Linked DNA regions of Homo sapiens: regions 1, 2 and 3 are each linked to region 4. The links come from fine-mapping of genetic effects on gene expression. A gene starts in region 4. Each other region holds a variant in brackets. All regions are shown on one strand. Distances are between the middles of the regions.

Region 1 (8,114 bases), 360 kb after region 4:
TTGTCTCTTGCTGGTGCCTGTTCCCCAGGTCTTTCTTGCTATGCCCAGCAATACATTCCCCAGAGATAATGTGATGGCCATTTCCCTTCATCATCATTTAGGTCTCAGTGATGTTTCCCGACTCCTTTAGATTAGTTTTCGATTGATGTCAGTACTTGGTAGTTCTAAAAAAATGTAATCTTTGAATTGTCCTAAATGTTGTCCTTTCTATACAACCTTGCAAATCAAAGTGGGATCTGGGGACCAGCAGTATCAGTATTAACCGGGAGCTTGTGAAAAATATAGGCTCTCAGGCCTCTGAATCAGAAGAAAACATTTTCAATAGGCTGTCCATGTGATTTGAAAGTACTTTGAAGTTTGGGAAGCAGAGCTGTATAACACATTGTTTTTCCCTGCAAATTTCCAAAGCAACATCTTATCATACTATTATGTTCTGGGTCACAGAATGACTCTCTTTGGGACAGCCTGTTTCTATTTTGATAACAGTATCCCTCTTTTCTCTTTATGTAAATCAAAATCCTTTAACATTTATGGAATTTGTATGTGAAGAAAAGGATAAAAAAAGGCCCCAGAGCATAGGTATTACCCCACAGTATTACCATTGATGCTTCCCTTCTGCACCATGTTCATTTACACCAAGACCTTGGAATATCATCAATGATATTAATAGAATATACATTAACAACACAGAAGGGAAGACCAGGCCCATTGAAGTGATAGTTCTGTTTCCTTTGCCTAGGTAGATAATGAAGTAGATTCACTTTTCCCATGACACTGGGCTGCCTGATATTTTGCTGTGTTACATGACGTGCTTCAGCATGACTAATACAGCCCAGCTGGTCTCAACAGCAGGAAAATGTGTCGTGGGGGGAGGGGTGATATGGCGAGGAAGTTACGCCTGCGCAGGCAGAGGAGGATCTGTTGTGTCTATGAGTGGATTGGGGGTGGGGTAGGAAGAAAGAATGAATGAAAGGGGGAAAACGAGAAAATCCCAGGAGTTCTGGAGACTTGAAATTTTTCAAGCTGTCATTTACCTTTGCAAAGTTGTGGTTGGTGACTGTGTTTACAGGCTTGGATCTGTAAACAGCACATGTGCAAACCGTTAGCTATTGTTTTGAAAATGACAGTATGGCCAATAATTTCAATTTCAGTGTTTAAGCGTGAACCAGATGACGCTATGTTTTATTTAAAACTGGGCATGTATCATGAAGGGTGGAAACTTGTACCTCTCAAACACTTTTATATTGTGTAGTGTGCCATATGTTGCCTGCTTTCAGGTTTTTAAAGTGATTGCCTACTGCCTCAAGGTAGCTTGTCTCAAGATTATAATCCAAATCTTGCTTGAGGGCAGAAATGAACCCATTAATTTAACAGTACACTAATGGGATTGGTATAAAGGTGTTAATTCTATTCAATATTCCTTAAGGATTAGGTTGAATGATAGTTTGGTTAAATAAAAAAAAGGGGGGGTGGAAAATCAGTATAAAATGTATGGGGCCACATAAAAGATTTGACCGATGTGTTTTAAAATTGTCTAAAAAATAAATTTAAAAAACCAAACTCGTTAGCTACATGAAATCATTTCTAACTTAAAACTCTTTTTAAAGTCTTAAATTACAAAGTACATCTTCCTTATTTTACAACTTTGGATGGAAACCAGTTTCTTTTTCCCTATTTATTCTCAATAAAGACAAGAATGAACGCTAACATTTGCTCTGACTTATCCTGGGTATATATTCAAGAAAGTTGCTGCATGCATATTCTAGTTGAATATTTAATTTCAATGAGATTTGGTCTGGTCATTGAATAAAAGATCCCTGCCCTCTTGAATTGCTTTTAAAAATTTGTATCTTATGTCTGGCTGAAGGGAGAGGTACCTAGCTCTGAAATTATACCCACCAGCTAAATGCAATTAGCTTGTGTGATCCTTGACCCTTGTGGAATGGGAGACTTTGTTCTGTGTGGTGAAGATGTGGGCAGCAGGGAGAGAGAGGCACGAGTGGGTGAAGGCTGTCCATGCTTTGATAAAGGTCATACAAATTTCTGTGTCTTCCTTAGAGGAATGTTGCTCTGATCTTTGGAACTCCAAGGCCTAAACTCATCTAATTCTTTATCCTGTGCTGGCCCTGGAGGCATTTTACTTCTAAGAATCCAATTCTATCTCCCTCAGAGGAGGCACACGTTAGCTCCCTCATCATTTTCCACCTCACTAAGTAGTCATCCAAAATACCATTACTGCTTAATTCATTTAATACTAGTATCCATGTTCAACTAATATCTTCCTTTAAAAAAAATTGGCAGTTGTTTATAACAGGATTTCTTGTCAGGTAATATCTAGCTAGATTTGTTTTAGAATCCCTTTTTTTGTTAGCGTAAAAAACAAAACCCAGCCAGGGCAGAAGATTAGGTTTCCCTCTAGGCAGGGTTCAGACAGTTTCTTCTTTGTGTTTGGCTCTCTTCTTTTGTAAGATGTGATCGGCAGCCTGTATTTGGAGGCCTGGGAGGGAAGAGATTAAGTTCTCCTCAGCTGGCTGTCCGAGGGTGTGGCTTTTTAACATTTTGGCTAACAGATGGTGACAAACCAACAGGTGCACCCAGATCACTGCACCAAGCTTTTTACATCTGCTGGGCACACAAACAGTGTGCTTGCTGCAGCTCCCCCGCGCCAGCTGGGGCCTTGGCTGCTACGAAGCCTGGCCGCAACAAGGTGCAGAGAGATGGAGGCTGGCGACCTTCAACTATTAACCTACTGATATGATGTGCTTTAGAGGATAAGCAGGGCAAGAATGCTTTGATCTGAATATTATGCAGTGAAAAAAGAGACAAAGGGGCACGGAACCTGAAGTGAAGTGAGGAAGTGGCAGGCTTTTCAGGACTTGACAGCTTCTCTCATCAAGGCCAGAGATTTTCACTTTAAGCAAAGACCTTGGCCTGCATTTACTGCTGTCTGGGAAAGTTGTTTGATGGGCTGAAAATGGTCGGATGAAAAGAGCCTAGAGAATCCTTGAGACAAATCCCTTTGCCACAGTAACAACTAACCTTCAGCAGGCATTGGCTGTGTGCAGTGCTCTGCCTGAATTATCTCATCGCATTCTTACCAGTTTATAGGGCGGGCACTGTTATCAGTAAAGAAATCAAGTCACCTAGAGGCTAAGCGATTTACAACTGGAAGAGAGCAGAGGCAGTGCTTACTGATTCAACATTATTTAAACACATGTTTATTGAAAGTCTACTATGTGCCAGGCACAGGCCTATGTGCCAGTTCTTTAAACCAAGTAGGCCCGACTCCAGAGCATCTGCGTTGAACAGCTATGTGCAGTCAGGGATTAACTCACTTTAGACCTCTATCTACTCGAAGGTAGAGAAGGAAAAATGTGCTTGAGGTCACTAGAAGTTGCAACTTCACCTATTAACTCCATCTCAAAAGGGTTGGGTTGTTTAAAAATTTTGTGTATTTTTTTTTTTTTTTTTGCTATGATTACCAAGTTTCTTATGTCACATAAAAGAAGGTCATGCCCCATACCGTTTTACTAATCCTGACCATTAACCCTATTTAAAGCCAGGGATTTTGAGACTTAAGAATTATTTCTCCTACACTGTTATTTTTACAGTTGAAGAAAATTAGTCACAGAACTGTCTCCTGGGGTTCTACAGCTCTGTGGTATCAAACAGGGACTGGAACTCCAATTTTCTCATTTTTCTACCCTCAATTCAAATCTATTTTTTCCAAACTAGATTGCCTCATTTCCATTTCCATGTGTTTCATGCTCATCTCTGTAAAGGATTCAGGAACATAGTTGTAACAGGCTGGCTGCCACTCCAGCCCCAGCTGTCAGTGTACAACCTTATGCCTGCCAAGTGGGGAGCAAACACAGTAGGGCCACGTTTAACCTACCTTCTAGGGGAAGGAGTTACTAAGCTGGGTAACCTAACAGATCTGAACTAAAGAGGAAGGTGAACAGATAAAACAGGGTGAATTAACATGAGAGGAAGAAGAATGACTTATGGGGGTAGTCCAGGAACCTAGGGGTTACTTATTTTATTTTATTTATTTTATTTTATATTATTTTGTGAAGAGAGGGTTTCACTGTGTTGCCCAGGCTGGAGTTTGTGGTGCAATCACGGCTCACTGCAGTCCAGACCTCCCCAGTTCAAGCCACCCTCTCACTTCAGCCTCCCAAGTAGCTGGGACAACAGGCGCATGCCACCATGCCAGGCTAATTTTTTATTTTTATTTTTGTATGGGATCTCACCATGTTGCCCAGACTG[G/C]TCCCAAACTCCTAGCCTCAAGCAATCCTCTCACAATGGCCTCCCAAAGTGCTGGAATTATAGGCATGAGCCACTGCACCAAGCAGGTTACTTATTTTTTAAAAAGACTATATCCTGTGCCTGAGTGGGAGCAAGAAGCCAGACAGGACCAGGGTCAAAGTCCTTGATCTTAAAAGCACCACAAGCTCCTAAAATAACTCCAGCCATAGCAGGAAGAATACTAAGAACCATTTATATACACCCACCTTGATCATAATTTGCTGAAGGATTGGGGAAGACTTAAGCCAGTGAACAGGGATGTAAGCCATGATGCTTTGAGGATGTGGGGAGAACATTAAGAACAGCAGAGGAAGAATATCAGAGGCTGGTGGCCACTGTGATTACAGCTCCTTCACAGTCAGACCCTGCAGCAAACAACTTCAGAGATGCGAATCAGTAGCATGAGTTTGGGGCTCTTACCTGTTGTGTTCTCTATTTAATCCCATAAAACTTGGCAGCAAATAGAGGCGTAATATATGTGTACAATGAATAATAGGCTGTTTCAGTAAGAAATGTGTATCTTGCAAAACCGGGCATTTAATTCCTACAGAATTTTCAACAGTGGCCAGAGTGGCAAGTTAGTTAAAATGTAAAACAGCTGATATCTGCTGTTCAGAAATCATTGGAAGTGTGGCTCTTCATAGTCAAACCAATGCTAGCAAAAATCAGGTTCTTTAAATAAGATTTTATTCTTCCTGAAGATTCTATTCTTTATTTAGGAAGATTTTATTCTTTGGTTGAATTTTTGCTGCTTTCCTTTGAAAAGATTAAGGAGTTGGAGATATTATTCAAACAATCTGTAAAGTAATTTTTGATTGAGGTGAAGAAGGAAAACTTAGTTTGGACCTTACGTGTTGAACTTTCTGGTTGTTTCTTTGCATAGCGCAGATACTAGTAAACACACACTTGTGATTTCATCATCCCTCTGTATAAAAATGCACACATTGTCAAAAGTGATTAGTCCATTCAGAGACCACACTTGATGTTTATCTGTCTTATTGCTGGCCTCCTGGGGACGTAGATGTCCAAGGTGGACACACAGCCTTCCCAGAGAATCTCACCCAGTCTCAGAGCTCTAAGTGTGTAGGATGGTTTGGTGCTTGCTTGTTGACTGCTGATTTTAACAGCCCGGTGGGTTTTTCAAGTGTAGTGGAACGGAAAACTCAGTTGCTCTTGATGCAAACTAAATAGTTATCTTTCAAACTGTGAGTCCCTCTCTTCTCTGTGGGCATATTTAAAATTAGGAAGAACACAGCAGCCACTTGTCTTAGTGAATGCAGTGACTTGCCTTGGGCCACACAAGAGCAGCCAGGCACATTGCCAGCTCTGACAGCAATGGCGGGTTCTGGGGTGTAGACTCAGGGAGCCTCATTTCGAGTGTTAGATGGATCTTTGAGCAGGGCACGTCAGCATAAACTGTAAAAAGATCCCCACAACAGTATTAACCCCACAGCGAAGATTAGCTGAGAATGTTTTCGATCTTCACAGTCATAATCTGCTCCTCAGGTGAACAGTGAGCACCAAATGCCAGGACACTGTGAGAACAGGTGTACTAACCTCTGCCTGGGACTTGGGGAGGGGAAGTAATGAGCTAAGAATGGCCAAATCATAAGGTCCTAGGTAAGAAAGCTCTTAAACAAGTGTGCCTGGACTTATGAAGCTTGAAAATGCCCTCTTTGGCATGCTGCCTACAATATAGTGTCACATAAAACAGCACTTCATAAAGTGTGTTTCACGGAACATGGTCCCTCAAGATGCTCCATGCTAAAGTCATGTGCCATACTCTGCGCCAGCACAGGAGTACGTGAAAGACTCAGAAACATCCTTTAGTAAAACACTCTTCTGCGCACACAACTTCTGTATCTGGCCAAAAAGCTATTTTCATGCAATTACCTTTTCACGTCTTTCAGTTATTTCAGTTGTACACGCTTTAGGAAACACTGATCTAAACAACAATTCAAATGTAGCTAACATCTTACAGAAACCAAAATGCGGTGTTTCTGAGACTTCAAATGGTATATTTAAATCAAGGTTCTGGCCTCTTCTGGAGCAGTAGAATTTAATATCCCCCCTTCCTATTCCACTATTCTTCAAATCCGAGGCATTGTTGTCACTGATGCCAGTTTGGATCTAATACTTAAACATAAATCTGTTGGGTTTCTTCTTATGTATTTCACTAAGATACGATTGCAGTAAAATACTGTCACTGAAGCGCTTGAATTTCTGTTCCCTGACCTTAAGGTAAAGTGGAGATCCACCCAGCAAAGTGAGGTGGTCTACTTGTATAAGAACTGAGAGTAAGACATTAAAGATCCTTCCTACTTAAGAAAGTATAACTTGACCTAACTTATTAGTACTGCTAGAGCCTCAGTAAGCACAAGAAGCTACAGAGGTAAAAGCGCTGATCCTAGTAGGAGATCTTTTCTACCAGCATCTCTTTTATTGCTATTCTGCAAGCCAGATGCTAGGCTTCATATGGCCCACCTGCAGGGCCGGATTCCTGGGCAGCCACCTTAGCAGTCCCCCAGGGCCCCACACTTAGAAGGACTCCAGGCTTACTTTAAGGCTCTGCTGTTGCCCTGTTGAAATTTTTAATGATTTTTAAACAATGGCCCCACATTTTTATTTTGTACAGGGCCCTGCAAATTATATCACTGATTCTGACCACCTGGGGGAAGGTGAGCCTCTCTTCTGGCATCATTTTTCAGAAGGTTTACTCTCTTGACTGGCACAGCATATCAACTGCAGTTGTCACTTGCATTTATCGGTTTGAATACCTTTCGGTAGTAAAATCTGAAGCTACTTGAAGATGTCACTATGTGCTCATGAAAATATGGAATTTAAAGTCAGAGATAAATGGACTGAAGCCACAGCATACACATTTACTGAGGGTTGGATCTGAGCACTGTTACCTAGCTTCTCTGGGCTTCAGCTGTGAGGCTCCTGCTCTGCACAGGAGTTTGTAGACACAGCCAGGGGACCAAGTGGAGCTGAACTAAACCCCTTGCTGCTCTTGCTAAGCCATCTGTCCTGGCACATGCATTTGTAATTTATACAAAGGTGCTACATAAGCAGTTGATGGTCCTGCACAGCTTTCTCATTTTTGAAAATGGGAAGCGTGCTTGCTGTCTCACAAAGACTGAGATAACGTATGAAGTATTTGGTATAGGATTAACCTAATACCTGTTAAATTTCCTAAAGGTAAGTGTTTATATTCAGAACTTTGAAAAGACAATGAACATGTTAGCCTATAACCTAAACTCATAGTATAATATTAATTAAATAGTTAAGCATATTTATTTCTGATTATACTTGTTCACTCAAGAACAACATACGTGCATCACAAGTAATAATGTCGCTGAAGTGTTTTCTGATGCTAAATTCCAATTTCTCTTGACTAACAAACTTGCGGAAAACCCTTGGTCATTATTTTTTTTGTATTGTTCTTTTTGTATTGTATTTTTTGTTCTTGTTCTGCACTAAAGGCTTTTTCATACTTCTTGCTGGGATCAGCTTGCATCAGAATGGTTGTTTCTGTCATAAAGCTTCTATGATAATTTCAGTGACTACTCAATTCTCTCCTCTATAGTCATCTAAAATCTAGTTTTCAAGTAGCTTTTGTTCAATGTAGAATTCTGGTAACAGTATAAACTCCTAAAAGCCAGGCAGTCCTAGGTTTTAATTTCAGTTTTTATTAGTTTCCAGGGATGCTATAACAAATTGCCACCTTTTAACTGGGTGACTTAAAACAACAGAAATATGTTCTTTCACAGTTCTGGAGGTCAGAAGTCCAAAATCAAGGTACC
Region 2 (8,114 bases), 49 kb after region 4:
CAATATGAAACAGAAAAACAAGTTGGTTGGATAGCTGTCCTCCATGCAGTCATTCATGATCCAGGCTGTCATCATCTTCATCACTCATGTTCAGAGTTACCCTAGAGGTCATCTCCATTTCATCCAGATAAATGAGTATGCAAGGAACGTTTTTATAGGTCAGTTCTAGAAGTAGGAAACATTAATTTACTCACATTCTGTTGGTTGAAAATAAGTGATGTGTCCACAACTAACATCAAAGGAGGCTGGGAAATTAGTCAAGAGTACCCAGAGGAAAAAAAAAGGAGAACATGTATTTTAGTGAGTAGCCAACAGTTTTTTTAATAATTTATCTTTCTGGCACGGAAATAACTATGCACATTATTTTTTTCTGTCTCCCCAATAGAGAGAACCTAAACATCTAGCATTTATTGCTTCTAGCTCCAAGCCAAGGATCTCAAGCTAACACACAGTCCTCTCTCAATTTGCCTGTGACATTTTTCTACTCCTCCCCAGCATCACAAAACCCCTAAGAAATAATGATTAAGCAGTGGATAACTGCTTTATACCTGCAATAATCATTCCCATTTATAAAGGGAAGAATGGAAAACAGCCACAGGAGTCATTGGTCCATTGTGATGATAAAACCTCTGCTCACGAGACCACTGAGAAGATCCACTATACTGAAATAGAAGTTTCAGTTTATGGTCTTTTTGTCCATTCTTCATGGCTCTCCCCTCTGGATGGTTATTCCTTTCTAGTCATGTGTGAAGTGGATGTTATAAACTCTATAGAGTTTGCCTTCCTTGGGTACTGCTGTATATTGGTTTAAATGTAGAGGCCCAAAAGTTGGCTTTCATTCAAAGACTTTTTTAGATTATGTTTCTGGTTTCTTAGTAAATATAGTTCCCTCACATTTTAGTAACCTTCTTACCATTTCTACTCAGTTGCATGTGCCAATAAACACAGTGCAATTTCTTTCCTAGACCTAATTCTCATGTCCACTTTCTTTCTGTGCTTTAGAACTCCTTGACTTCTCTTTTTCTACCCAATAGTGTCTGCTTTGAAGTAATCTGAAATAATAGGCTCAGGTGAGACAGTGAAAACCCCTAATCTGCTCTTTGTCTCTCTCTCTCTTTTTTTTTTCTTTTTTTTTAAGCTGATAAGTTTTCATGGGTCTTTGTTCTTCAAAGCCTGTTTTCATTTTTCTCCTGTTGGTTCTCAGAAGAAGTTGGCTTTTCCAACATTTTTAGCCCCAAATTACTGGACTTTCTATTCTCTATATTTTTGCTTGTGACATGACTAGTTCTTGTCTGACTTCATCTTCATCTTGTAATGCCTTACTAGAAGGAATGAGGAACAACTTGCAGACACCAGTTTGAAGAATACTTACGACTGTAACATTGTATTCTATGAATAATGACATATTGTAATTGAGGCTAGGAAATAGAGTCTGTGCTAGGAAGAAAAGGAGAATATGAATGTGGTAATCAGGTTGTACTCTCTGCTGCAATATTTAAATTCAATAAAAATCATAAAACTTATAGAGCAGAAATAAATTTTAATTGTGACAAAAAAATACAAAAAAAATCAACAAAACAAAAAGTTGTTTTTTGAAAAGATAAGTAGAATTAACAAACCTTTGCTTGCCCAAGGAAAAAAAGGAGAAAACTCAAATAAAATGGGAAACAAAAAAGAAACATTACAACTGATACCACAGAAATGCAAAAGATCATTAGCGACTACTAAGAACAACTATATACCAACAAATTGCAAAATCTAGAAGAAAAGAATACATTCCTGGGCATATAAAACCTATCAAGATTAAACATGACAAGACAGAATAGTTGAACAGACCAAAAATGAATCATGAGTTTGAAGCAGGAATAAAAAATCTTCCATCAAAGAAAAGTCCAGGACCTGATAGATTCATTGCTGACTTCTACCAAACAGTTAAAGAACTAATCCCATTTCTACTAAAACTATTTCAAAACATTGAAGAGGAGGGAATACTGCCAAACTCATTTTACAAGGCTGGCATTACTCTGATACCAAAACTAGACAAGAACACAATAAAAAAAAGGAATACTACAAGGTAATATCGCTGATGAACATAGATGTAAAAATCTCAACAAAACACTACAAACCAAATTCAGCAACACGTTCAAAAGATAATGCATCATGATCAAGTTGGATCACGCCAGTGATGCAGGGATGGTTCAACATACACATATCAATAAACATGATGTATCACAACAGCAGAATCAAGAATAAACACCATACGATTATTTCAGTAGATGCTGAAAAAGTATTCAACAAAATTTAACATTCCTTCATGATAAAATTAATCTTGTTAAAATTTCTCTACTACCCAAAGTGATCTACTGATTTAATGCAATCTCTATCAAAATACCAATGACATTCTCCACAAAAATCCTAAAGAACAATCCTAAAATTCACATGGAACCCCAGAAGATCCCCAATAGCTGAAGCAGTTCTGAGCAAAAAGAAAAAAGCCAGAGAATCACACTATCTGATTTCAAATTATACTACAAATTTATAGTAACGAAACAATTGGGTACTGGCATAAAAATAGACACATAGATCAATAGAATAGAACAGAGAACCCGGAACTAAATCCACACACTTAGAGTCTACTCATTTTTTATAAAAGTACTATGAAGTTACAATGTGGGAAACGATTGTCTCTTTAATAAATGGTCCTGGGAAAACTGGTTTCTATATGCAGAAGAATGAAAGTAGATTCTCTATCTTTCATCATATACAAAAATCAACTCAAAATGGATTAAAGACTTAAATGTAAGACATAAAACTATGAAATGACTGGAAAAAAACATTGGGAAAACACTACAGGACATTGGTCTGGCAAAAATTGTGGGGGGGGGTAAGATCTCAAAAGCCCAGGCAACAAAATCAAAAATAGACACATAGGATTACATCAAGCTAGAGAGCTTCTTCACAGCAAAGAAAACAATCAACAAAGTGAAGAGACAACTTACAAAATATGAGAAAGTATTTGCAAAATATTCATCCAACAAAGGATTAATACCCAGAATATATAAGGAGCTCAAACAACTCAATAGCAAAACACAATTCAATTAAAAATGGGCAAAAGATCTGAATAGACATTTTTCAAAAGAAGATACAAATGGCCAACAGGTATTTGAAAAACATTCTCAACATCACTAATCATTAGGGAAATCCAAATTGAAAGCACAGTGAGATATCATCTCATCCTAGTTACAGTGGCTGCTATCAGAAAGGCAAAAAATAACAAGTGTTGGTGGGGATGTGGAGAAAAAAGGAAATGGTCATACACTGTGGGTGAAAATGTAAATTGGTACACCATTATGGAAAACAATATGGAGGTTCCTCAATAAACTAAAAATAGAACTACCATATGATCCAGATATCCTACTCCTGGGTATATATCCAAAAAAAGGAAATCAGTATATGGAAGACATATCTGAACTCTCATGTTTATTGCAGCATTATTCACAATAACGAAGATATGGAATCAACCTTAGCATCCATCAGTAGATGAATGGATAGCAAAAATGTTGTCTCTATACACAGTGGAATATTATTCAGCCTTATAAATGAAACGCTGCCATTTGCAGCAACATGGATGGAACTGAAGGTCATTATGTTAAGAGAAATAAGCCAGGCACAGAAAGACAAATATTGCTTTTTCTCACTCATTTGTGAGAGCTGAAAAAGTGGATCTCATGGAGGTAGAGAGTAGAATAATGGCTACCAGAGCCAGGGATGGGAAGTGGGTAGAGGGTAGAGAAGTTGGTTAAGGGATACAAAAATAC[A/T]GTTAGAGTAGAAGGAATAATTTCTAGTATTCAATAGTACAGTAGGAAAATTATGATTAACAATAATTTATTATGTATTTCTAAATACTTAGAAGAGAAGTTTTGTTTTGCTCCCAACACAAAGAACATGTAAATAAGGTGATGGATATCCCAATTATTCTGAACTGGTCATTACTCATTGTATACAGGTATCAAAATATTACATATATCCACCCAAAGTAGGTACAACTATTGTATATCAATAAAAATAGGTAGATTAAATCGAACAGTGCATATAAGGTAATAAGCATGAAAATATTAATAAATGGTAGTAGTTTTTATTGTTTACATTAAGAGGGGCAGAACTAGAACTGAAATTCATCTGCTTTGTATGTATATGTTATGCTTTTTAAAATAAAATACAAAATACTTGAGATTCAAACTTTAGCCTTACTTTTAATGTAACATAGTAAGTATATATCCAAACTATATATACTTGGAAATAAGCATGTTGCCAAAAGTATGCCAAAAGCCCCAACCTATCTAAGTAAATACTACATGATTTTCATATTTACAGATAATGTTATTTAACAATATGGTTTAATGGAACACTGATAGTACTTGATAAGATGAATGTTATCAAAAACAAATGATTGAGAAATTTAATTACCAGCAATTGTATCATTGATAATTTATTTAAAAGAATTTTGTTTTCTTTATGAATATTTAATGGAAATAAGTCAAAGTATTTGTACCCATTGCTTTAAAAATGAATTTTATAGAATAAACTATTTCTGGATTTTATAGACACTCCTTTTTAAAAAAATTTTCATTATAATTGTTTTCTTTTCAGCAGGCATTTTGGAGATCAAAGATGGGTAGAAAAGATGCTGCTACTATAAAACTTCCTGTTGATCAGTACAGAAAACAAATTGGTAAGCAATGAATTATCTTTGATACACTCCTATTAATTGAGATAAAAACACAATTATGCATATTAAGAAAATAAATTTTCTCTAATACATATGATACACAGAAATATGTGAGTGAAAAAGGACTTTATAGAGTTTTATGGAAGCAAAATTAAATGCAGTCCTGCTTACCAGTAAAGATATGAACTTCATGTACTTACGATTTTTCAGTGCTCTTATAATTTTAATTAATTTAATAAAACAAAAAATAAATATTATTCTTTAGGCTGAATGCTTTTATATAATCAGCATTTTTGATTTTATAATCCATTAAATCATTCCTTTGTATACATATTATAACTTTTAATTCTGTTGACTCTTATTGGCAATAATTTGATAACTTCAAAATTCTCCTGTAAAATATGCTAAATAAAGTAGAACAAATGTTCTTTTATATGGAAACCTGAGTTCAGAAAAAAAGAAAGAGAATTCTCCAGAGGTCATATGTGAAAGAAGGATTAAGGAAGACTGGAAATAAGGATTTGTAGATGGAATTGAGACTCCCAAATATACTTGGACCCTCAAGGAGATACTACCCTAGTAGAACGGTGGACTAGAAAAGCTCACTTAGCACAGGAAGATAACAGGAAGCTTATCTATTTTAAATTAGGCTCTAGGTGCAGGATTTTCTTTTCAAGGATACATGGAGTATTTCTAAAAAATTACCTACCTACATACTAAGTCACAAAGAAAGTATCCCAAGTTATAAACAATCAATATCCTATAACTGCATTTTTAAATCAAATGTAGTAAATTAGAAATTAGTTAGAAGCAAAAAGGTAACTTCCCCTTCTTCACCCAACCCTCTCCTTTAGTGCACTTTTTTCCATCTGTACCATTGCTTTGGAAATACAAAATAAATTAATAAAAATAACACTTCTAAATAACTAAAGGATAAACAAAGAAGTTACATTAGAAGTCAGAAAATAAATATAAATAATTGATACCAAAATATAGTATATATCTATTTCATAAATAAGACACAAAAAGTACGCTCTATAAAGCAAAATATATTTCTGAAAAACAAAAGACATGCAAACAAAGTAAAAAATATTTGGAATACATATAGCCAATTAAGAATTTGTATAGTACAGGCCGGGCGCGGTGACTTAACGCCAGTAATCCCAGCACTTTGGGAGGCCGAGGCAGGTGGATCACAAGGTCAGGAGATCGAGACCATCCTGGCTAACATGGTGAAACCCTGTCTCTACTAAAAATACAAAAAAAAAAAAAATTAGCCGGGCGTCGTGATGGGCGCCTGTAGTCCCAGCTACCTGGGAGGCTGAGCCAGGAGAATGGCGTGAACCCGGGAACCCGGGAGGCAGAGCTTGCAGTGAGCAGAGATCATGTTACTGCACTACAGCCTGGGTGACAGAGTGGGACTCCATCTCAAAAAAAAAAAAAGAATGTTTATAGTACGTATTTAAGGTGTACAACATCACTTTTTGCTATACACACACAGAGTAAATGATTACTACAGTCAAACCAATTAAAATATGCATCATCTCACATAGTACCTTTTCTGTGTGTGGTAAGAGTCCTAAAATCTACTCTCAGCAAATATCCAGTGTACAATACAATATTATTAACTGTAGTTCTCATGTGGTATATTAGATCTATAGTTTATTCATCCTACATAATTGCAACTTTATACCCTTGACCTACATCTCTGCATTTCCCCTTCCCTCCAACTCTGCTAACACCATTCCACTCTCCTTTTCTACATATTTGACATCCGTTTTTTAAGATTGAAAAGATAAGAGAGATCATGCAGTATTTTTCTTTCTTTGTCTGGCCTACTTCACTTAGCATAATGTCCTCCAATTTCATCCATGTTTTCCCAAATGGCAGGACCTCCTTTTTAAAGGGTGAAATATATTTTTATATATGTATAAAATAATTTCTTGATTCCGTCATCTGTCTGTGGACACTTAGGTTGTTTCCATATCTTGGCTATTGTGAATAATGCTGCAGTGAACATGGTATCTCTAAAATGTGGAGATTTTATTTTCTTTGGGTATATACCTAGGAGAGAGATTGCTGGGTCATATAGTAGTTATATTTCTGATTTTTAGAGGAATCTCCATACTATTTTTTTCCATTTCTACTAAGAATATACAAGGATTCTGTCTTTTCTGTATCCTCACTAACATTTATTACGTTTTTTTAACATAGTCATCCTAACACGTGTGAGACATTATCTTATTGTGGTTGGATTAGCACTTCTCTGATAATTAGGGAGGTTGAGGACTTTTCCATGTACCTGTTTGTCATTTTCTCCATTTTCTTTGGAGAAATGTCTATTCAGACCTTTTGACCATTTTCTAGTCAGGTATGTTCAATCAAGTTGTCTTTTTTACTATTGTAAAATATAAGTTCCTTATATAATTTGACTTAACTGTTTCTCAAGTACATGGTGTACAAATATTTTCTCCCATTTTGTAGATTACCTTTTTATTTTGTTCATTGCTCCTTATGCCATGCAGAAGATTTTTAGTTTAATTTAGTCTCCTTTGTTTGTTTTTGCTTCAGTTGCATGTTCTTTAGTGTTACATCCAAGAAATCATAGCCAAGACCAATGTCAAGAAATAAAAATGAATTAAAGGCAAATATAAGACATAAAACTACTAGAAAAAAAGAAGGGGGACATTCATTCTATACCTAAAAGGCAAATATAAGACATAAAAGTACTAGAAAAAAAGAAGGGAGATATTCATTCTATACCTAATTTATTGAGAATTTTTATCATGAAATGGTGCTGAATTTTATTTTTTGTTATACCTTAAGTTCTAGGATACATGTGCAGAACGTGCAGGTTTGTTACGTAGGTATACATGTCCCATGGTGGTTTGCTGCACCCATCAACCCGTCATCTATATTAGGTATTTCTCCTAATGCTATCCTTTCCCTTACACCCCACCCCCTGACAGGCCCTGTTGTGTGATGTTCCCTTCCCTGTGCTCGTATGTTCTCAATGTTCAACCCCCACTTATGCATGAGAACATGCGGTGTTTGGTTTTCTGTTCCTGTGTTAGTTTGCTGAGAAAGATGGTTTCCAGCTTCATCCATGTCCCTGCAAAGGACATGAACTCATTATTTTTTATGGCTGCATAGTATTCCATGGTGTATATGTGCCACATTTTCATTATCCAGTCTATCATTGATGGGCATTGGGGTTGGTTCCAAGTCTTTGCTATTTTAAATAGTGCTTCAGTAAACATAAGTGTGGATGTGTCTTTATAGTAGAATGATTTATAATCCTTTGGGTATATACCCAGTAATGGAATTGCTTGGTCAAATGGTATTTTTGGTTCTAGATCCTTGAGGAATCACCACAATGTCTTCT
Region 3 (8,114 bases), 31 kb after region 4:
GCCTTCCCAGGTCAAATAGGTATAGCCCCTTTGCTTCTCTGAGATCTGTGGAGGAGGACATCTCTTTGCCTGGGGAGGTTGTAGGGTGAGCTTTTTGGTTGTGTGGAGCCATTGCTTACCTTCCTGGGCAAAGCCAGTGTGGCTTCTTTCCTTCTCTGATATCCCTTCATGTCTCTGACATCCATGAAGCTGGGAGTCTTCCTGCCTTATGGAGTCATTGGGTAGGCATTTTGGCTGTGTGGAGCTGCTGTTTACCCTGCTGGGTCAAGCCATTCTATCCCCTTTGCTTCTCTCAAATTCACAAATAAAACAATTCTGTGAGCTCACACAGAGTGGGGAGATATTAAGGTTTGGACCACTCAGAATGGCACGTCTTCATAATCAACCAGGGCATTTAGTTGAGACCCCACTGGGGATAATGTTTTAGAAGTAGGCTGATCTATACCTAGATTAAAGGTTGCTTAGATGCAACCTAGAAAAAACTTAAGTAAAACCTGACCATACTGATTTTAACTCTCTTTCTCCTCTCAACAAAAAGCCCCAATTGTTTTAAAAGAGTAAAATAACATTTAGACATTAAACAATGTAACAATTGCAGTTCCATTATCTGGTAAAAATTACTAGTCATGCCACAGAGCAGGAAAGTGTGATTTATAACCAAGAGAAAAACAGTCAATAGAAATAGATCTATAAATGATAGATTTGGTGGAACTACCAGCAAAAAATGTAATCAGTTATTATATTTTTAAATATTTAAAGAAAAACCTTAACATAAGAGGAATATAGAAGATATTAGAAAGAATCAAAGGAACTTCTAGTGGTGAAAAGTATAATTTTTGAGTCACAACTTTCACTTTATGGTATTAACAGCAGATAGGACACTGCAGAAGACAAGTTCAGTGTGCTTGAAGATATTGCAGTAACATTGATCCAAAATGAAAGGCAGAGTGAATAATTGCCCCTCCCAACAAAAATCAACAGTGCCTCGGTTAGTTATGAGACAATACATGGTCTCATATATGTGTAGATGTAGTCTCAGAATAGTGGCAGGGGCAGGGGAAGAAATAAAAAGTATTTCAAGAAATCATGTCAGAAGTTTTTCCAAATTTGATGAAAATTACAAAACGATACATCTAAGAAGCTCAGAGAAGTCTGACCAGTATAATAGTAGACACACAGACACCAAAGCACATCAAAATTAAATTGGTGAAAACAATAATGCAAAAATCATTAAAAGTAGCAAGTATGGGTGAGGAATATAAACTAAAGACAAATTTAAAATGGTTGGTGATGGATGTGTTAGTTAATTTGATTGTAATAATCATTACAAATTGTATACATATATCCAATCATGTTGTACACCTCGAATATATATATATATCTCAATTAAAAATTTTAAAATATAAAAAGGTAAACCTAAAGATAAGTTTGAAGACTGTTCCACAAAACTATCCCAGTTGGTAGACAAAGGAGTGTTAGCTTTCAAGTACTGTAAGAATAGTTGTGACCCTAGAACCCTAGAATTCTATTTGAAGAAAAATATTCTTCAAAAATTAAAGACAAAATAAAAGTTTTTGTCTCTAAACAAAAGCTGAGAGAATTTGTTGCCCAAAGACTTGCACTGCAAGTAATGTTAATGGAATTCTTCAGAAAAAAGGAAAATGAAACATCACACAAGGAACAAAGAGTATTGGAAATAGTAAATATGTAGGTAAATACAAAAGGCATTTTTATCATTTTTAAGGTTTTGAAAAAGATATGTTGACTCTTTACTGCAAAAATATTATCAATGGTTTATATTGATAAAAACATAGATGTGAAACATATGACAATAATATCCCAAAGGATAGAGGGTTGAGATTGGAAGTTTACTTTTGCAAGATCTTATATAATATGTAGAGTAGTATAATATTATTTGAAGATAGATTATGAAAGGTTACATAATATGTATTATAAATTCTAGTAACTGCTAAAAATGTAAAACAGAGGAATGACTAATAAAAGTGAAGATGGAATAAAATACTAAAAAATGCTCAATTAATCCCAAAGAAGCAAGTAAAAAAAAAAAACAAAGAAGATGAGGTAACAGCAGATGGGACAAATAGAAAATAAATTGTAGGATGAGGGATATAAATGCAAACATATTTAATTACATTAAATAAAATGATCTTAATTGTACATTTAAAACACATGTTTTCAACTGGGTAAAACAAGCAAGACCCAGCAATATACTGTCAAGAAATCTGATTAAATAAATAACCCTGTGCAAGCGATCTTAATTGTACTTCCTCATTCCTGCTATATAACCACAGAATTTGGCGTTTATCATTTGGGTGCATGTGTGTGTGTGTGTTGGTATAGGTATATTTTTCCCTAAATAATATTGACTATTGATTTTTCATGTTTTAAGTTGTTTTGTAAGTGTATAAATACATGTGTCTTTGTTCACACATTTTAACTGCTTTATATTTCACTTATGAATAAATTATGTAGACATACAGAGTTTTATTTTCCTTTTTTGCTGTTATTAAAAACATTTTCAGTGAGTGTACTTACTAGTGTTTTTGTGCACATATAGAATTGTTTCCCTAGTTCATATAACTAGCAGTTGATTAATGGTTCTTGTAGGTACATAATCTTTAATTTTACTGGGTATTGCCACATTGCTCCCTCAAATATTTTATTAATTACTCTTCTTAACTTATTGTAATAATCTGAGCTCCTATAACAGTTCAATAAGTAGTCATGCATATACTTTTAGAGGTATTCCATAGTATTTATAGCTGCTTTATAGATTTTGTTGCTATACTAAATTAGAATTTTATATATAAACTTTATATATCATAACCTGGCTGAGCTCTTACAAATAATTTCATACAGATTCAAATATTTGTCTGTAGTTTCTCTCCACTTTGCCACCTGGGAGTCATATTATTTGTGAATCATAATGTTTTCTTTTTCCTTTCCAATCCCCTATGCTCTTTCCCCTTTTGTCTTACTGTGCTATCTGGATGTCTCACTGCAATGTCTTTGTCTTGCTTATGATTTTTAAAAGAGAACTTTTAATTTTTCTCTATTTAGGATAATCTTTGCTTTGTTTGTTTGCCTATGTATCAACAGGGTAAAAAGTTCTTTTCTATTTCTATATACTAAATTCCTTGCTTTCTCCTTCCTGCCTCCCTCTGTTCATCCTCTATCTTTCTTCCTTCTCTCTCCCCCTGTAATAATGAATGGGTATTGAATGTAACTTTTATTTTTCTGTATTGATTGAGGTCTGTCAGTATTTTCCTCCTTTAATCAGTTAACAAGAATACTACTAAGATAATATCTAATGTTAAATTGCCCTTTCATTTTTGTGATTAGCCCAGCTTCATCATGGAATATTTTATCATTATGATTATACATACTGGATTTGGTTGTCTAATATTATGTTTAGGATTTTTGTATCTTTGTTCATAAATAAGATTGGCTTGTAATTTTTCATTCTCATAATGATCTTGCCTTGTTCTCATTTCAAGATTCTATTAGCCTTATGAAATGAGTTGAGAAGTGTGCCAATTTTTAGGCTTCAAAATAGTTTAATATTTTATATACCTGATAAAGCTTGTTGTAGGGATTATGTGTTCCTTGAATGGTTAATAAAACTTCCTTGTTGACCATTTAATCTTACCTGTTTTGTGTGTGTATGTCTTATTTTTTAAGGGTAGATTTTTAAACATTGATTGACTTAAAAAATTATAGTTCCACTGAATTTTATTCTATTTGATCTCTACCTTCTTCAGCTGCTATTG[G/A]TAAGTCTGTTTTTTAAGAAATGTGTTTTAATTTTTAAATTTATTGATATGGCATTTTTAATAGAATCTTCTTGTTATATAATGTTAATCTCTGCTGAATATTGAGTCTTTTTTTAAATATCTAATACTGTTTGTGTATTTTTTTCTTATTCCGTCAGGACAAGAGTTTGTTCCATGTTATTATTTTTCAAAGGCTCAGTTTTTGTCTATGTTGATCATCCCTTTTGACTCTGTTTTTTAAATTTAATTATTTATTGCTTTTAGTTTATGACTTTTTGTAATTTGAAGGGCTTTATTCTTTTTCTATTATTTCCTTTTTGGTTCATTATTTTTCAATCTTTTGTCTTTTCTAATTTGTGCTTACTTATCACTTTAGCTACATTACTAATTTTTCAAAACTTTCTGTTGATGCATAATACTGTACATAAAGGAACGTGCACAAAACAGAATATGTAGACGGTGAATTTTCACAGAATGAACACGCTTTTAACCAAAACCCTGATTATTTTATTTTAGCAATAATTTCTAAACATTTGCTGTTGAAGTGTTTTAATATTTGTAGTTCACAACATTGATCAAGTTGGAATCTTTTATTATCTTGAACAGTTTATTCAAAAGTATATTTTTCGTATTTTCATTTGCTAGCTTTTCTTTGTTATTTTTTGTGAGACTGAATACTCTTAAAAAGGCCGACAATTAACTATCAAGCAGAACTTTGACATCTTTTTAAATGAAATACCTTATGAAAGGCATTACAGATTTGATAGAGTGGGAATTAGGGAATAGGAGATGGAAGATAAAAAGCTGGCACAAAGTAGAACTTCTGGTTTTTTGTTTGTATTACAGTTTAACTTGGGAAATTCTTTTCTCCATCAATCCATTGTAACAGGAAATCTACTTATGCTTTTTCGTATTGTACTATTCCATCTATTTTTACTTATTTATTTGTTTCTACATAGTAGAGTTATATTAGCTAATAGCCTAGTGCTTATTTCCATTAACCTTTTTCCATGTTGTTTTCTCAATTTTTTAAGCTCAAAAATCTTTATTGTATTTCTCTAGTGGAAAAATTCGGTGGTATTTTAAAAGCATAATTTGCATCATAGCTGATAAATACATGTTATAATACCACAATCTGTTTGAAAACTAGCAGTCTGCAAATACTAACAAAGTGCTAATGCTATAATCACCTGGGACTTCGATATAATGAATGCGTTTAGTACAACTTCTATGAAATTGGATATAGACCAGTTGTTTTTATACTTTTGACATTTAATTACTAATAAAGCTCTTTTAAATAAGTCATACAGCATTTTGAAGCTATTACATTGGAAGCAAAATTTCCATAAAGGGCCTTGTTATTGTTGTCTTGAGCTCTTTGTTTCCTCTTATATACTTAAGCTTATTTCAGTACACATAATTTCCATTAGTTTTAAGATATATATGCTTAAAAGTTATGTACTTATTGTTAGTTCTGTCTTAATATTTAAGGATGTGTTTCTCGGCATGAAAATAATTACCCTTAGCCTGATACATATGCTTATGTATTCTATGTTTTTTAAACTGGAAGAGAGTTTAGCAATTGTGTAAGAAGGGAAACTGATTGACTTTGTCAATGTCATCTAGTCTTTCATTGAAAAGATGTGGCTAAGGTTTTATGCCTTCTTGTCTGGTACATTTCCCTACTATTCTTTATTTAGTCAAGGGATAATCATTGAACGTCTTTTGGAAACTATCCATGTACCAAACTAGAACTTGCTTTTTCAGTTCACCATTGAAATAGCCACCATTACAAAAATAATAGAGGTTTTTATTTCTTTCACACTTTCTCTCCTGCTCTCTCTGTGTGGAACTGAGTGACTTTCCCTAGTCACTTAAGGATTTTTTTGTTGAATTTGGAAACCTAATTACTTGAAATTGATAATACACATAGAAATGACTAAAAATTAGCATAAGTGATGCTTGCCGCTAAAATAGATCAAGGAGATTCAGTGAGTGATATGTTATCTGTGTACTTTATAGTCAGAAGTGTGAGAATCATTGTGTTTAAACCTTAGATTAAGTGATGAATCAATATACAGAAACATGATTTCACAATATATATCTTGAATGTTAGCAATCTGATATAGACAAGCTATATTTTTAAATGTATAAATACCCATGTAAACATACAGTATGTGGCTACACATAGGACTGATGCTTTTAGTTTTCTATCTAGAATCTTTATGCCTTATCTTCAAAGAACACTGGTTTTATTCTTTTATCTACCCATTTTGCAGACAGTCATATGTTTAGGAGAAACAGACCCCATGGCCAGCTTCAGCAGTAGGTGTGGTTGGTTTAAGCACAGTCTCATTTTCCTTGCCATAGCGTGGAGCATATGTCTATAAGGTGTAAAATAAGGTGATAGACCTCTATGGGGTATTTAATATTTGATATTACCATTATCACCAAGTTGGTCTATATGAGCACAGGTTATTTATTCTGTAGATTTAATTCAAATCGGTTCTTATCCTTTGTTTCATAGGTGACTCACAAATTTTAGAAATATTAGGTATTAATTGTTTTGTAAAATATTATACAAAAAATTAAACATGAAAACTTTCATTGATAATAATGTCTGACAGGTTTCCTAATGTTAGAGAGGAAAGCTATGAATATAAATGTGGAAAGGGCGTAGTAGAATGAGAGCTGTGTGATGTTGGATTGGAAATTGGAAGTACTGAGCTCACACCAATACATATATTTCCTAGCTCTCTCTCCTTAGAAGGCCTGTGAACAGTATCAGTTTATTAGAAATGAGCATATCTTGTCCCCAGATCTTGCTTTCTAAAAAACATTCTCTACTAAAGGGGAAGTGGGCCCTTAGAGAAATGGCAGGTCCCAGGGCAGGAGCAGGGAAAACACACGCTAAACCGTAAATATCTGTGTGTCAGAAAATAAAGAGGTTCTTAAAAAAGGTGATATGCCAAAAGGACACAAACCACCTTGAAGGAACTTTCACTGGCCAAATCCAGGACAATTTGGGAATCAAAATTTTAAAAATGATATACATTAATTCTAACTAATTGAATAAAAATATCTATGAGTACATACTGCTATAAACGCATATATGAATAAATAAATGGAGAGAAGGAAATGCTTTTTAATAAAGTAGGATACTAACGAATAAATATGGAAGAAATGAGGAAATTATAAAATCATCACATGGCACCTGTCAGAATATAATTAATTCAACCGAGAAACATCAATAAATGCTAACCAAGTAGTGGTAAATTTGATGAATAGGATATTTACATAGTTTCAAAGCACCTCCACACCAAATACTTATTAATTACAAAGGGGAAAAGACTAAATTCTCTCTCAGTGGAGAAATTAGGCAGGTACCACCTTAATCAAGTGATCCAAGTTAACACTGTCAAAAGAGGATAGCATGCAATGAGAACACTGTATTGGTCAGTTTAGTTAAAACAAACAAAAAAGGTAGAAAACAGGAGAAACTTGCTAGTTAAAGGAAAAATAAGAAATTCACATTGATTATGCTTTGTTAGAATGATGCTAGATGTATGATTGAAGAAGTTAGGGGTAGTTATATAGGACCTTGGAATATATTTGAGGGAATGAGGTACCCAAGGAGGGCGTAATATATAAAGTGAATGAATTATGGGGAACACGGGAACACAAACGCCATAGTTTCATAGGCACCTAGAGGAAGAATGCTAATGAAAGAGGTAAAGAAGAAATTGAAATGTAGAAGGAGAATCAGGAAAGTGCTGACTTGGAAGCTGACGGCTTGAAGTTTGACGACAGAGTATTCAGTAGTGCCATGTGCCAGAGGATGATTTTGTAAATAAGGACAGTCTATCTCAGCATAACCTACTATTGTGATATTCTCATATCTGTTTCAGGTATTGCCTAAAATATTAATCTGTTTTCTGAAATGCAGTATTTTAAAAGAAGACTTGCCATTCTTTCCTGGTACCGCAACACCTTATGGGTGATAAAACTAACTGAGCTATGGTGTATGGTAAACTGTCCTTGTGTGCTTCATAGTTGGGGCAAGGGCTGTCCTGGATGGTCCTGGTTTAAGTTTATCTTGCTGTAATGAATGGGGCCCTCTTTGACTCTCAAAAGTGTTCTGGCTTGGATGGTAAGTTATATGGTCATCCTATTATAGGTCTCTGATGACAGGATATTCCTTTATCACAAGCTGGGGAAATGATTGATAAGCATGTCTCTTAGCCAGTTCTTGATATCTTTTATTCGTTAACCAAAATGCTTATTTTGTTCTGTTATGATCCATTTTAATTAGCTTTCCAATAA
Region 4 (8,114 bases):
AATGTAAATTAGTTCAACCATTGTGGAAGACAGTGTGGCAATTCCTTAAAGACCTAGAAGCAGAACTGCAGAACCACCATTCCACTCAGCAATCCCATTGCTTGGTATATACCCAAAGGAATACAAATCATTCTATTATAAAGATACATGCATGCGCATGTTCATTGCAGCACTATGCACCATAGCAAAGACATAGAATCAACCCAAATGCCCATCAATGATAGACTGGATAAAGAAAATGTGGTACATATACACCATGGAATACTATGCAGCCATAAAAAGGAATGAGATCATGTCCTTTGCAGGAACGTGAATGGAGCCAGAAGCCATTACCCTCGGCAAACTAATGTAAGAACAGAAAACCAAACACTGAATATTCTCACTTATAAGTGGGAGCTGAACAATGAGAACACATGGACACAGGGAGGGGAACAACATACACAGGGACCTGCTAGGGGAGGATTTGGAGAGGGAGAGCATCAGGATAAATAACTAATGCATGCTGGGCTTAATATCTAAGGGATGGGTTGATAGGTGCAGCAAACCAGCATGGCACAAGTTTACCTGTGTAACAAACCCACATATTCTGCAAATGTATCCTGGAACCTAAAATTTAAAAAAAATTAATTTTTTTTAAAAAAAGAAAATATAAACAAATGCACAAGCATAGTTGGAGATTTAACACCTTTCTTTCAATAAGTGATAGAATATGCTTAAAAATGTTGGTAAGGATCACTATGGCATATGTATACCTAAGTAACAAATCTGCACATTCTGCACATGTATCCTAGAACTTAAAGTAAAATGAAAAAATAAAATAAATAAATAAAATGTTTTTAAAAGCAAAAAAAAAAAACTGTCATAAGATATAGACTATAATCAACATTTAGAGCATACTGCATTCCATAATTTCAGAATACACATTTTTTTTCCAAATACACTGAGAACAGTCATAAAGATAAACCATATGTTGGGTTATAATATATGTGTCAATAATTTTCAATAAAATTTGAAATATTACAATATATATTTTCTAACTACAATGGAATTAAAAGTCAATAACTGTAAGATATTAGACAACTCTCAAATACTTGGAAACACAGAAACATAATTCTAAATATGTAACCAAAAAAGAGCCCATATAGCCAAGAAAATCCTAAGCAAAAAGAACAAAGAGGGGCATCATGTTACCTGACTTCAATCTATACTACAGTAACCAAAACAGCATGGTACTGGTACCAAAACAGATATATAGACCAGTGGAACAGAACTGAGGCCTCACAAATAACACCACACACCTACAACCATCTGATCTTTGACAAACCTGACAAAAACAAGCAATGGGGAAAGGATTCCCTATTTAATAAATGGTGTTGGGAAAACTGGCTAGCTATATGCAGGAAACTGAAACTGGACCCCTTCCTTATACCTTATATAAATATTAACTCAAGATGAATGAAAGACTTAAACGTAAGACCTAAAACCATAAAATCCCTAGAAGAAAACCTAGGCAATATCATTCGGGACATAAGCATGGGCAGAGACTTATAACTAAAATTCCAAAAGCAGTTGCAACAAAAGCCAAAATTGACAAATGGGATCTAATTAAACTGAAGAGCTTCTGTATAGCTGAAGAAATTATCATTAGAGTAAACAGGCAACCTACAGAATGGGAGAAACCTTTTGCAATCTATCCATCTGACAAAGGGCTAATATCCAGAATCTACAAGGAACTTAAACAAATTTACAAGAAAAAAACAAACAACCGCATCAAAAAGTGGGTGAAGGATATGAACAGACACTTTTCAAAAGAATACATTTATGCGTCCAATAAGCATATAAAAAAAGCTCATTATCACTGGTCATTACAGAAATGCAAATCAAAACCACAATGAGATACCATCTCATGCTAGTTAGAATGGTGATCATTAAAAAGGCAGGAAACAACAGATGCTGGAGAGGATGTGGAGAAATAGGAATGCTTTTACACTGTTGGTGGGAGTGTCAATTAGTTCAACCATTGTAGAAGACAGTGTGGTGATTCCTCAAGGATCTAGAACCAGAAACGCCATTTGACCCAGGAATTCCATTACTGGGTATATGCCCAAAGGATTATAAATCATGCTACTATAAAGACACATGCCAACGTATGTTTATTGCAGCACTATTCACAATAGCAAAGACTTGGAACCAACCCAAATGCCCATCAATAATAGACTGGATAAAGAAAATGTGGCACATATACACCATAGAATACTATGCAGCCAATTATATTTCAATTTGCTAGAAATGTAAGTCAATAATATATGTCTTTATATGGTAAAGAAATAAGCATATAACATACATCTGGAAGTTTTAATTTTACATTAAGCTATTTACTTCTTGTTGTATAATATCTTACATATGTGAGAATATTCAATGCATTTGCTGTACAAATGCATTGCTGTACATCTTTATGTAATGAAAATGGACTCAAGTACATTCACCACTTTTATTTAAATCTTACAGCATTTATTTATATATTTATTAATATATAATCATAACTCTTTCTTTTTAGTCTAAAACTAATTTTTTTTTTTTTTTTTTTTTGAGATGGAGTCCCACTCAGTTGCCCAGGCTGGAGTGCAATGATGCAATCTCGGCTCACTGCAACCTCTGCCTCCCGGGCTCAAGCAATTCTCCTGCCTCAGGCTCCTGAGTAGCTGGGATTACAGGTGCCTGCCACCATGCCTGCCTAATTTTTGTATTTTTAGTAGAGACGGGGTTTCACCATGTTGGCCAGGCTGGTCTGGAACTCCTGACCTCAGGCAATCCGTCCACCTCAGCTTCCCAAAGTGCTGGGATTACAGGCATGAACCACCACACCTGGCCAAACCAAATATTTTTAAAAGATTAAAGAAAATGGGGACTCTGAGTCATACAAATCAAGAAAGTTTTATAGAGAGTTATTCACATTTAGCAAGCTTTCAGAAGAATTTGGATATTCAGCAGGTCAAGAGTGTAAAATTATTTGTAATTGGAATGGGTTTCTTTTATTCCAACAATTGCATCACAGTACGATGAACATTTTAATTGAATCTCAAGGCACTTGTCCAGAGGTACTCTTTTTTTTTTTCTTTTTTCTTACTACAACCGTATCTATCAGACAAGATAAACCCTTCTGGGTTTTGGTTTAATATGGAAGGAAAAAGAGTTTCACTATTTTAAAGCCACACACATAAGTAATCTGGTTAAGTGTATTAATATAATCTCATTTAACTCTACCTTTATTTCTGGGAGAGGAACTGGAGACCAGAAAATGATTTAGGAGGACGGAAAATAAAATTACATTTTGGATTCAATTCCTGGCCATAATATTCTGTGAGATTTCAGAAAGCCTTCTGGTTAGTCTATTTATACTTGTCTCAGTTTTTTTTTTTTTTTTTTTTTTGTATGCTACTTTCTTTCTCAAGGGCTTTTGGAAAAAGATATGATGGGGCTGGCCTAGAGGAAGGTGACTTTTATGTGAGCAAGAGAAAAATTAAATTGGAGGTTGCATAATTTTTTGAAGGAATTTTAGATTTAGTTCACCACAATATTAAAAAATGATGGCTGCAGGCACTTAGATTTGTTGAATGGTTGAATAAATCTAGCCTTTCCTAGCCTGTGTTTCATTGTCCATAGGCTGTGGATAATACTCTTAGTGGGTTTTGTAAGGATTACATGAGTATAATTTATAAAGCATTTAATATTTGAATACTTTTCCAATAAGTAACATCTTAATATTTCATTCCCATTTTGTAGATGTGAAAATTGAGTACCCGAACATAGGCTCCTAAATCCTAATTGTCAGTCACGTTTTTGCAATCTTTCCTAAATTTATTAATCTCTGGTTAATGTTAATATAAAACGATTTTTTTTTCTTTTTTGCTGTTTGAATGGGCAATTAATTGATTGTTTACACAGACAGTGCGCCCTTCCACTTAGGGACGCTCCTTAGGGATGATCCTGTGAATTGGGGAGTGTGTGTGTGTGAGATGGGAGGGTTCAATAATCAAAATAACATATTTTTCCGTTTTATATTAACTAAACAAGTCACAGTCTTTATTTTTAATTTCTACAGTCACCTCGTGAGACAGGTATTAGAACTCCGGAGTGGCATCAAAATGAGGGAAAGGCCTCAGGGCCAGCGCCTTTGCGTCCTGGACCGGCGTACAGACGGGAGAAAGGCCGACCAATCCGAGAGCAGGCTGAGGCCTGGTCCCGCCCCTGGGGGCAGAGCCTCGCCTCTTTTCCGCCTCACCCTTTGGGAGTAGGGGTGTGCGGCTGGCTTGTCCCGCCCCTGCCCCTGAGTGACAGAACCGTGGACAGCAACATTTCCCACAGGACACGAAGTTTGTCGGCCCTTGCCTTGGCAGAGCTGAGGTGTGTGTCCGGCGAGTGCGAGGGGATTGGGGAGACCCTGCCCGGGAAGCTCGGGGTCCGGGAATGAAAGCGGGCGCACCTCTTTAGCGAGCCCTAAAGCGTTTGGGAGACGATCGTTCCGTCCCTGGGAGCGGCACTTGGTGGGGCTGGGCGGAGGGAGGCTCTGCAAGAGAAACCCGGAGTCCGGGAAACCCAGTAGGTACGGTGATCACTGAAGGACCCGTTCCCGTTGAGTAGGGCGCTGGCTGCGGGATGGGGGATGGAGGGTGCTGGGTTCGGTGGGCGTGGCCATTGCGGTTGCTAAGGAACGCGCGGTTCCCGCCCTGCCAGCGTGTCTGGCGCCAGCCGCTGGGCCCTGGACACGTTAGTCCCGCCCACCTCCCAAGGTCTTCCACGCGGCTCGGGATTGGCTCCTTTGTGCTGACCGATTACTCGCGGTCGCTTACTTGTCAGTGCAGCTCTCTGGGTTCTGCCGTTCCCTTTTGGGGCCCCCTTTCCCATGGTACTCCTCTTCACTCTTTTTCCTGCTTCCTCTTATTAATGAACGAGTATTTGCATACCAAAACATTTGCAGAGAAGAGATTCAGACAGGATTAGGTGGCTTTATCGGTGGTGGTGAGGTTGTGGGGCGGGGGTATTTTTCTTGGAGCTTGGTGTATTCCTGAATCCATCAGATGTTGGTGTCCGCGTGGATGACTAGGAAAAGGGGATTGGAGATTAGGTTTCTTCTACTTGGAGTTCTCTGCTGCTTGTTTGAGCTTAATAAGCCTCCTGAAGAAGTTGAAGCAATTTATTGCTAGAGGAGCCCCAATGTATAATCTCCCTTTCATTCTCTACTGTGGAGAGGTGTGCTAAACCTGTAGAGCTGTTTTTGCTTCACTCGGCTCATACTTAATGATCAACAAGTATGGTGTGAGATGGTAACCTCAGATAACCATTTTAAATCTGCCTTTGTTTGCTCATATACTCTGTCTCCTAATGATTCAGCACAACAAACATTCCAGAGAGAAAAAACAAAAGAGGTAAAAATCTTTTATTTTCCTCTGGCAGGTTTACAGTGCAAACCCCCAGGAAGGAAGCTTGTGCTGCTTGTTAACATTGGGAGGAGCATTGGCCTACAAGTCAGGAAACTGGCATGGTTAAGAAATGTTTGTCCTTGGGCAATAATTGTTTCGTTATCTGTAAATTGGAGACTCTAGGATATGCCCTTCCTTCCTAAAAAAGGAGGAATAATTGGTTGTGAAAGTATCATTAAAGTAATGATCCACACAAATGTAAAGCATTATTGATTACACTTTTAATCTTTTTGTGTATATGATCCAAATTTATAAACACGTATAAGTATTGCCATTCAGCTTTAAGTATTTTCAAATTTCCCTTGTGATTTTTTTTTTTTTTAATCTTAGGGTTATTTAGAAATGGGGAAGAAATTAACTCATCTATTCATTATTGATTCTGTGTTGGTTCTGGTTAGGTAGAACCTGTAATGTCTTGAATGACACCTTTTCCTCTTTAATATCACTAGATATATATATATATATAGATATATATATATACCTGAAAAGATTGGGAAACATTACCTTTTAATGCGAGGATGACTAACCTTTTTGGTGTCATTTACCACTTTGAGAAACCAAGGAAAGCTATTGACTTGCTCCTCAGAAAAATGCACAATTTTAAGCCTAAATGGACCCTGTTTTTGTTCAACTTCTTTAGGGATAAGGAAATTATTCTCTCCCACTTGCCTCATCCTACAGAGAGACTAAGTAACTTTTACCCAAGGCTACATAGCTGGGAGCAGAGTGGGGCTTTTGCCTTTCTTCCACAGTGCCTCTTACCATAACATACCTTTGTTCAAGGCCTTCAGTCATCTGCAGTTCCCTTTTGGGGCCCCCTTTCCCATTGTACTTTTTTGTTTTTTTGAGCACTAACAAACGGGAACTACTAATGTTCAGTTATTTGTTGCTATCTTACAAAACCATGTAATCTATGTTTTATCCCAAATGCCCTTTGATCATAACCTCTTAAAGCATATTCTGGTATTTAAACAAGTAAAAAGAACATTGTCAAATATTTTGAGAAAAATGTGAAACTGTATTTTTTTTTTTTTTTTGAGACGGAGTTTCACTCTTGTTGCCCAGGCTGGAGTGCAATGGCGCTATCTCAGCTCACCACAACCTCTGCCTTCCTGGTTCAAGCAATTCTCCTGCCTCAGCCTCCCGAGTAGCTGGGATTACAGGAGTGCACCACCACACCTGGCTAATTTTGTATTTTTAGTACAGACGGGGTTTCTTCATGTTGGTCAGGCTGGTCTCGAACTCCCAACCTCAGGTGATCCGCCCGCCTCGGCCTCCCAAAGTGTTGAGATTACAGGGGTGAGCCACCGCGTCTGGCCAAAATTGTACTTTTGAGATGAACATTAAATCCATAAACTTTCTCATCTATCGAGGTCCGTTTTGGACAAAGAAAAGCTGATTATTTTTAGTACATGCCACTGGAATATCATTACTTGATACTTAGAACTGTTTTTTTTTTTTTAAACTTAAGTGAATAATCTTTTATAACATTTTAATTTGTGGCTAAAAAGAATTGTGGTTGTTTTCACTGTGGCTCTTTTCCTGATTTCTATATTCATATAGAAATCTGTAAATAGAGTTCATTATTTTCTTTGGTCTGATTCCCTATCTAGCTTTATCAATAAAAGTGGATATCAGTAGTAGATATAAAAAGTTGTTATTGGATAAGGAAAAACTTGAAGAGGTAAAGAGCTATTGCTTTTGTAAAACGCATAAATGTATATATGCACCTGTTATTTCGTTAGTACTTGTAATTTTATTTGAACTGTTTGGTACTTGACTCTTTCTTTATTCAACTCTGTTCATTTCTGGTAGAGAAACAGGGATAAAGACAAATGGCTTAGAGAGAGCATTACAATGGATTTAGAGATTTTTAGGGGCTCAATAATAGCTCTTTCCTTCCTCTCTTGCGTTTGTAAACAGACATGTGGCGCCTGCCATATCAACTTCAACTTGCAATAACAAGTCGAGTGGGGATAGTGCTTTATGCAAAAATGAGACCAAAAATGAGTACTAGTACTTCCTATCCCCTTTTACTCCTACTCTCTTTCCCAGAACCTAGACTTTAGTTCAGCTGAGAGAAAAATTTCAGATTGCGGAACAGATACGCTTACTTACAATTACTGCTTTTCATGGTGTAGGGCAGAGGTCTAATAAAAGATGGAAAATCTCCAGTGCTTAGTGGTTTATAATGGGTTAGCTCTACCGGTGGAGTAATGTGAACCGGTCAGATACGTCTCTTTTTGGTAAGCTGTGAAGAAGAAGTGGGATCTGAGGCCAGGACTGTTAATCTAGTGCTCTGGTTTTCCATTTCCAGAATGGTTTTCCATTCTGGGTGACACCTCTGGGGTATTTGAAATATGCCAGGGTGTTTTAAAATTATTCTAATTTCTTTAAAGGAAGTACTACTGGCTTTTGGGATCCTGAAGTTCAGAGATGATAAATATTGTGTAATGTAGAGATCTATCAGCTCAATAAAGAATTTCTTTGTCTCACTCCAATGCCAAAGCATCTTTTGAGAGTCCCTGCTCCAGTGGACATTCTTCTATGTAGAAACGCGAAACTCAGCCAGCTTTCTCCTTAATCTTTGTGCATATGTATCTGTGTTTTTGATATCAGTAGATTTGACTCAAA

Which allele goes with the higher level. Positions count from the first base shown, and alleles are read on the strand shown. Sizes are in standard deviations (SD) of each study's normalised expression. Not every link is listed here.
For the expression in coronary artery of the gene that starts at base 4,267 in region 4, C is the high allele of the variant in region 1 and G is the other (small effect, 0.31 SD a copy in GTEx).

What was found. PIP is the estimated chance that this variant, and not a neighbour inherited with it, causes the effect.
Region 1: its variant is the best candidate, but not a certain one, in a credible set for the expression of TRIQK in coronary artery (GTEx, PIP 0.54).
Region 2: its variant is the best candidate, but not a certain one, in a credible set for the expression of TRIQK in whole blood (INTERVAL, PIP 0.89).
Region 3: its variant is the best candidate, but not a certain one, in a credible set for the expression of TRIQK in whole blood (INTERVAL, PIP 0.50).

What each region holds. Positions count from the first base shown.
Region 1 is chr8:92,600,711-92,608,824 of GRCh38, reverse strand. The region is part of intron 3 of LOC102724710 (a long non-coding RNA gene); the gene reads left to right. Among named protein-coding and RNA genes, the nearest start is that of FLJ46284, 180 kb to the left of the region's middle. The variant G/C (reference allele first, on the strand shown) is at 4,270.
Region 2 is chr8:92,913,547-92,921,660 of GRCh38, reverse strand. TRIQK (triple QxxK/R motif containing) reads left to right here. Exons shown (of 5, transcript NM_001171797.2): 3 at 4,651-4,732. The coding sequence starts at 4,672. Among named protein-coding and RNA genes, the nearest start is that of TRIQK, 49 kb to the left of the region's middle. The variant A/T (reference allele first, on the strand shown) is at 3,819.
Region 3 is chr8:92,931,539-92,939,652 of GRCh38, reverse strand. All of the region lies in intron 2 of TRIQK (triple QxxK/R motif containing), which reads left to right. Among named protein-coding and RNA genes, the nearest start is that of TRIQK, 31 kb to the left of the region's middle. The variant G/A (reference allele first, on the strand shown) is at 3,792.
Region 4 is chr8:92,962,297-92,970,410 of GRCh38, reverse strand. It overlaps TRIQK (triple QxxK/R motif containing), which reads left to right and starts at 4,267. Exons shown (of 5, transcript NM_001171797.2): 1 at 4,267-4,404. RefSeq lists a silencer at 4,171-4,280 and an enhancer at 4,951-5,060.